Homo sapiens: one gene and its partner. The protein of the gene in region 1 interacts with the protein of each later gene in a biochemical or structural test. Each region holds a gene or a part of one and is shown on either strand. Other genes may lie near its edges.

Evidence for each region.
Region 2: the proteins of GEMIN5 (region 1) and EIF4E form a complex in vitro, tested with the Homo sapiens proteins (one study listed by BioGRID and IntAct).

Annotation. Positions count from the first base shown.
Region 1 is NC_000005.10:154,927,898-154,931,935, reverse strand, and holds part of GEMIN5 (gem-associated protein 5), read left to right. Parts: intron 1-358; coding exon 359-478; intron 479-3,276; coding exon 3,277-3,409; intron 3,410-4,038. UniProt on the Homo sapiens protein: The SMN complex catalyzes the assembly of small nuclear ribonucleoproteins (snRNPs), the building blocks of the spliceosome, and thereby plays an important role in the splicing of cellular pre-mRNAs.
Region 2 is NC_000004.12:98,878,776-98,881,454, reverse strand, and holds the end of EIF4E (eukaryotic translation initiation factor 4E), read left to right. Parts: intron 1-312; coding exon 313-427; 3' UTR 428-2,179; downstream 2,180-2,679. UniProt on the Homo sapiens protein: Acts in the cytoplasm to initiate and regulate protein synthesis and is required in the nucleus for export of a subset of mRNAs from the nucleus to the cytoplasm which promotes processes such as RNA capping, processing and splicing.

The DNA of each region.
Region 1 (4,038 bases):
GTTCAAGCGATTCTCCTGCCTCAGCCTCCCGAGTAGCCGGGATTACAGGCATGCGCCACCACGCCCAGCTAATTTTGTATTTTTAGTAGAGACAGGTTTCTCCATGTTGGTCAGGCTGGTCTTGAACTCCCGACCTCAGGTGATCCACCTGCCTCAGCCTCCCAAAATGCTGGGATTACAGGCGTGAGCCACTGCACCAGGCCGAATTATATCATTTTAATTATACCTAAAACTTCAAATTTTATAGTTCAGACCTATGAAAGAGATAGCTAAGTTTTGGAAACTCTTGCAAACTAATTTTTTTATATTAGTGCGTGTTTAATGTAAATTAAAAACAAAATTGCCACCTATCTCATAGAAGAAGCTGAAATTACCAACGGGAATGCTGTAGCACAAGCTCCAGTAACAAAAGGTTGCTACTTAGCCACTGGAAGCAAAGATCAAACCATTCGAATCTGGAGCTGTTCTAGAGGCCGAGGTAAGATTGATCTTTCTTTTGTGATGTAACCTATGTTGATCTGGTGGAAGTAGAGGGTTTTCTGTTCTTATTGTCCTGAGGGTGTGTCATCTATTTGAGAGCAGTTCTTCACTTTTTGGTCTAGAATTCTGCTTCCTCATTTGAGCCTGGCCTAGACTCTCTATTCTCTCAACATCTGGCCTTAGAGATTAGTATTTCCCATGCATTCCAGGAGAAGACAAGGATCTCTTGCTTTATAGAAGGGTCAGTGTTTGGCATGGAGAGCAGAATATTTGTAATAAAAACAGGAATATTAGAACATGATATGGCCTAAGCCAGGAGAATGGAAAATATCTTAAGAGTTAGAGCTTTTAATGCACAAATGCAGAATAAATTACATACACCCAGCATAGAATTATGTGTAAAAGCTCATTTTATCCAAATTATAGAGCCCCTCAATCATTTAGCTTTCCCAAATGTCTCTTTGAACAGAACTTTTATCTTTAAGTTTAAAAATTGAGAGAAACTCTAGGCATAATGAATATTTATAGTATATCATAGAATATAACCTTTATAGTAAAAATCTTGTTTTTCTCTTTCTAGCGGGCTTCTCTTCTTTCTTCATTTTATTTTATTTTTTTTGGCAGTTTTTTAAGCTGTGGTGGAAAATATAACATTTGCCATCTTTATCACTTTTAAGTGTACATTTAAGTGGTATGAAGTACACTCTAAAGTTGTGCAACTGTCACAGCCACCCATCTCCAGAATTCTACTCTCCATTTCCCCCTCCCCCAGGCCCTGGCAACCATCATTCTGCTTTCAGCTCTATGATTTTGACTACTCTGAGTATTTCCTTTGAGTGAAGTTATACATATGATATGTCTTTTTGTGATTGGCTTATTTCACTTAGCATATATCCCCGAGGTTCATTGATGTTGGTACCGTATGTCAGCATATCCTTCCTTTCTAAGGCTGAATAATATTCCATTGTGTGTATGTCCCACATTTTACTTACCCACTCATCCACTTGTTATAAATAAAATTTCGGTGTGGCAAAAGAAATAGCACTCAAATATAAAACTTTCTTTTTAATTCTCAGCAAGGCAATGTACTTCTATAGAAGGGTGCGCCCTTACAGATGGAGCAATGGTGAGCGCACACTTGGACAACGGAGGGGAGGGGTTCTTATCCCTGACGCATGTGGCCCCTGCTGCTGTGTCGTTCCCCTATCAGCTAGGGTTAGACCGCACAGGCTAAACTAATTCTGATTCGCTGATTTAAAGAGAGTGCCGGGGTAAGTGGTTTGATGGGAGAAAATGGTTATGGCAGGAAAAATGGTTATGGCAGAGCAGGAAATCAGAATGAGTCAGGGTGGAGCAGGTAATCGGAATGAGTCAGGATGGAGCAGGTAATCGAAAAAGGTTGCTTTTACGAGGAAGTTAAGTTTAAAAACAGAAGCCAAATAATTGAACATACTGACATATTGATTCTTTGAAGAGAAATTTAGAACTCATATCTCACACACTGATGGACATTTGGGTTGCTTCCATGTTTTACTATTCTAAATAATATGCTATGAGCATGGATGTACTTTCTACTTTATTTGAAACCATGATAGTTTTATCATATTTGCCCAAATGCATGTAAAGCAAGTAGCACAGCACTTGGAATGTCATCCAGGCTTCATCAGTGGTAGGTAACTAATAGTATAATTTGGGAAGACAGAACTTTTTTAAGGTTTACAGGCTACTTCTTGGCATACTGCAGCTAAAACTCCAAGTGGGAACATAAGGCTGAGGATCCCTCCAGGAGGGTAACCTCTAGACTTAGAGGTGTCTGGTAAAATGGCCTTCAATTGTGGTTGTGCAGCAGAATCAGCTGGAGAGTCTTTGGAAAAATGTAGGTTCTTGTACCCCACCTCAGATCTACTGAGTCCGAATCTCTAGGAGTTAGGCCCTGGCGTATGTATTTTTTAAAGTTCCACCTGTGGTTCCGATGCACAATACAGCTTAAAAAACGGTGATTAGAAGCATGTCGGGTGGAGGTACTCCCCACCCACAGCACGTTCACTGCCAAATTTTTCTTTGTTGGATTTCTTGCCGACTAGAAATAGTAATCCCAACCTCTGTCCTTTTCACTTTGGAGTTATGTCACTGCAATACTTTTGGGTACACAACTCAGCTGTGTTACTAGCTGGGTTCTCAGTTTTACTTGGGAACTCATTTTCCCAGACGAAAAAATACTCTTTTTCTTTTGAGGCAGAGTCTCTCTCTGTCGCCCAGGCTGGAGTGCAGTGGCACGATCTCAGCTCACTGCAAGCTCCACCTCCTGGGTTCATGCCATTCTCCTGCCTCAGCCTCCCGAGTAGCTGGGACTACAGGTGCCTGCCACCACGCCCGGCTAATTTTTTTGTATTTTTAGTAGAGACAGGGTTTCACCATGTTAGCCAGGATGGTCTCGATCTCCTGACCTCGTGATCCTCCCGCCTCGGCCTCTCAAAGTGCTGGGATTACAGGCATGAGCCACCGCGCCCGGCCAAAAAAAAAAAATACTCTTAATACGTTGAGGTTGTCAAGATAGCCTGTCGAAGCTTGTTTGACCTAAATGTAGCTAGACTAGTATTAACCAGTATTTATAGTGATTAAAATTATAACCATAATAATGGTTAAAATTGTAACCATTGGAAAATGAGATCTGAATTCTAAGTAGCCAAACTAACAAGCTTTTACAGCGCAGACTGTGTGTTATGAACCACCGGTGACTTCATGCATGTAGTTTCACTGTCTTGAGTGCCCACTGGCCTTCTTTTTAATCTGCAGGGGTGATGATTTTGAAATTGCCCTTTCTGAAGAGAAGAGGAGGGGGTATAGACCCAACTGTTAAAGAGCGCCTTTGGTTGACACTCCATTGGCCCAGCAATCAACCAACACAGCTGGTATCTAGCTGTTTTGGGTAAGTCTTTTTTGGTCATGCTTTCTCAGATATATTTTGTTTTTCTATTTGGCCTCAAGTCCTCCTAGGATGGAGAAAGTAATGGCCAAGGCTTGTATTATGATGGGCCATTTGAAATGGAAAAATTATGAGACTAATGCCTGTGCTATCTACTAACAGAGCTGTAAAAAGATCACATAAGTATAGTCCGGCAGTTAGGAATATGGACTCTGAAGTCAGAACTAAATTTCAGAATCACTTTGTCACTTACTGCCTTGTATTCCTGAGCAAGACCCTTTACTTTTCTGAGCTTCAGTCACTTCAAGTGTAGAAAGGGGAGATGGTTATAATATTTTCTCTTAGGTTGGATGGCTATGCCCATTCAGTAAACAAAGTTCATTGACTACCTACTTCTAGTGGCTGGAGATAAATCTGTTTAAAGGGTAGTCCAATATACTCACATGGTTCAAGAAGAACGAAAGTATATAATAAACTGTCTTTCTGTCTTCCCTAGCTACTTGGTTCCCCTTTCTGTGATTAAATTTTTTTTTTTTTTTGAAACAGGGTCTTGCTCTGTCACCCAGGCTGGAGTGCAGTGGTGCAAACACAGCTCACTGCAGCCTCAACCTCCTGGGCTCAAGCAATTCTCC
Region 2 (2,679 bases), on another chromosome or scaffold:
TGTTCACTGTTGATTTAGTAATAATTATAGTATCATAATAAATAACAATATAATAATATAGTAATGCTCCTGTAATTTAGTAATAACATACCTGACTCGCTCTCAAATATTTTAAAAGTAATTAACCAAGAATATCGCAAAAATGAAGAGTAAATTGTGCTGAAAGGAAAAGGGTGTATAATTAATTTCCTATTTTATTCTCAAGTCTATGTTTTTTAATATAAAGACTAATAACCCTAAATTTTTAAATGTATTTCTTGTGAGTAAAAGTTAATGACTACTTTTTTCTTCTTCTTTTTTTTTTTCTTCTAGGAGGGTATACAAGGAAAGGTTAGGACTTCCTCCAAAGATAGTGATTGGTTATCAGTCCCACGCAGACACAGCTACTAAGAGCGGCTCCACCACTAAAAATAGGTTTGTTGTTTAAGAAGACACCTTCTGAGTATTCTCATAGGAGACTGCGTCAAGCAATCGAGATTTGGGAGCTGAACCAAAGCCTCTTCAAAAAGCAGAGTGGACTGCATTTAAATTTGATTTCCATCTTAATGTTACTCAGATATAAGAGAAGTCTCATTCGCCTTTGTCTTGTACTTCTGTGTTCATTTTTTTTTTTTTTTTTGGCTAGAGTTTCCACTATCCCAATCAAAGAATTACAGTACACATCCCCAGAATCCATAAATGTGTTCCTGGCCCACTCTGTAATAGTTCAGTAGAATTACCATTAATTACATACAGATTTTACCTATCCACAATAGTCAGAAAACAACTTGGCATTTCTATACTTTACAGGAAAAAAAATTCTGTTGTTCCATTTTATGCAGAAGCATATTTTGCTGGTTTGAAAGATTATGATGCATACAGTTTTCTAGCAATTTTCTTTGTTTCTTTTTACAGCATTGTCTTTGCTGTACTCTTGCTGATGGCTGCTAGATTTTAATTTATTTGTTTCCCTACTTGATAATATTAGTGATTCTGATTTCAGTTTTTCATTTGTTTTGCTTTTGTTTTTTTCCTCATGTAACATTGGTGAAGGATCCAGGAATATGACACAAAGGTGGAATAAACATTAATTTTGTGCATTCTTTGGTAATTTTTTTTGTTTTTTGTAACTACAAAGCTTTGCTACAAATTTATGCATTTCATTCAAATCAGTGATCTATGTTTGTGTGATTTCCTAAACATAATTGTGGATTATAAAAAATGTAACATCATAATTACATTCCTAACTAGAATTAGTATGTCTGTTTTTGTATCTTTATGCTGTATTTTAACACTTTGTATTACTTAGGTTATTTTGCTTTGGTTAAAAATGGCTCAAGTAGAAAAGCAGTCCCATTCATATTAAGACAGTGTACAAAACTGTAAATAAAATGTGTACAGTGAATTGTCTTTTAGACAACTAGATTTGTCCTTTTATTTCTCCATCTTTATAGAAGGAATTTGTACTTCTTATTGCAAGGCAGTCTCTATATTATGTCTTCTTTTGTGGTGTCTTCCATGTGAACAGCATAAGTTTGGAGCACTAGTTTGATTATTATGTTTATTACAATTTTTAATAAATTGAATAGGTAGTATCATATATATGGAATTAAATTGATGTGGCTATCTTTGTTTTTTTATAAAGTAAGGCACAGTCATTCAGTCTTAGGTAAATAATGTACTCTCTTAATATGTTAATACTCATGAGAATTGGGATCTGATGCATCACCATTTGATTGGTAGCAACAGTGGTTGTAAAACTTGGTTGCTGAATTGAGTTGTTTCTATGTTAAGTGTCAAAATGATAGTGTAGGGAAAGTACAGGTGGTGGGGACATATGCATTAAGAATCTTGTTAGTGTTGCAATCTAAATAGAATGGAATAAACAGGTGTTAAGACATATTTATAGTGGTAAATTGTTGTAGTATGGTATTCTGTAAACTTGAAAACTTGATCTACTCTTTGTAGGTATCATTTGAAAGCAAACTTGAAAATGTTTTGTACATAGTACATACTTGTATAGTCCTGTGAGATGAAGTATGGCTATCAGACCAAAGGATAAGCCAAACTGTAGGTAGCAGAATGGAAATTATTATTTTGAGAGGAAAATTTGTCTTTGAATGGTGATTATGACTTAATCATTTTAAAACTGATAAACTTGACAAAAACCCTGTATGAAATAAACATGAAATTAATAGCACTGATTTCATTGTAAAATTTTAAAGCAGTTTAAAGGGTACCACAGGTTATCACAGTACTCTCAATGCCACAAACACCTCTTGTTCAGTATTCTAGAAATACTGAATCAGAATTCTGTGTTTATTATAATCTCAGCATACTGTACATAATATCTGCTAGTTAAACTTGGGTAATTGGTTAAGGTGACTTACTGTCTATGTCAATATGTATAGTTTTGAGTACTTCAAGAGTTTACTTAAAAGTGATGATGTTACTGGTATGTTGGCAGTGGGTGGGACTGAAGTAGTGTATCTATTATAAATTGATCTATTTTCTTAATTCTAAGATGAAGTCCAATTTTAAGCATCAGCTTTTAGGTGCAAAGGAGGAATTAACACATTAAATGTATACAGTTCTAAATTTTTGAAATAACTGATGTGTAGCATTTGATTATTGGTATTACCATTTTAGAATCATGATGTTATTTTAAACCTTTTTCCTGGGGACAAGAAAGGATAATAA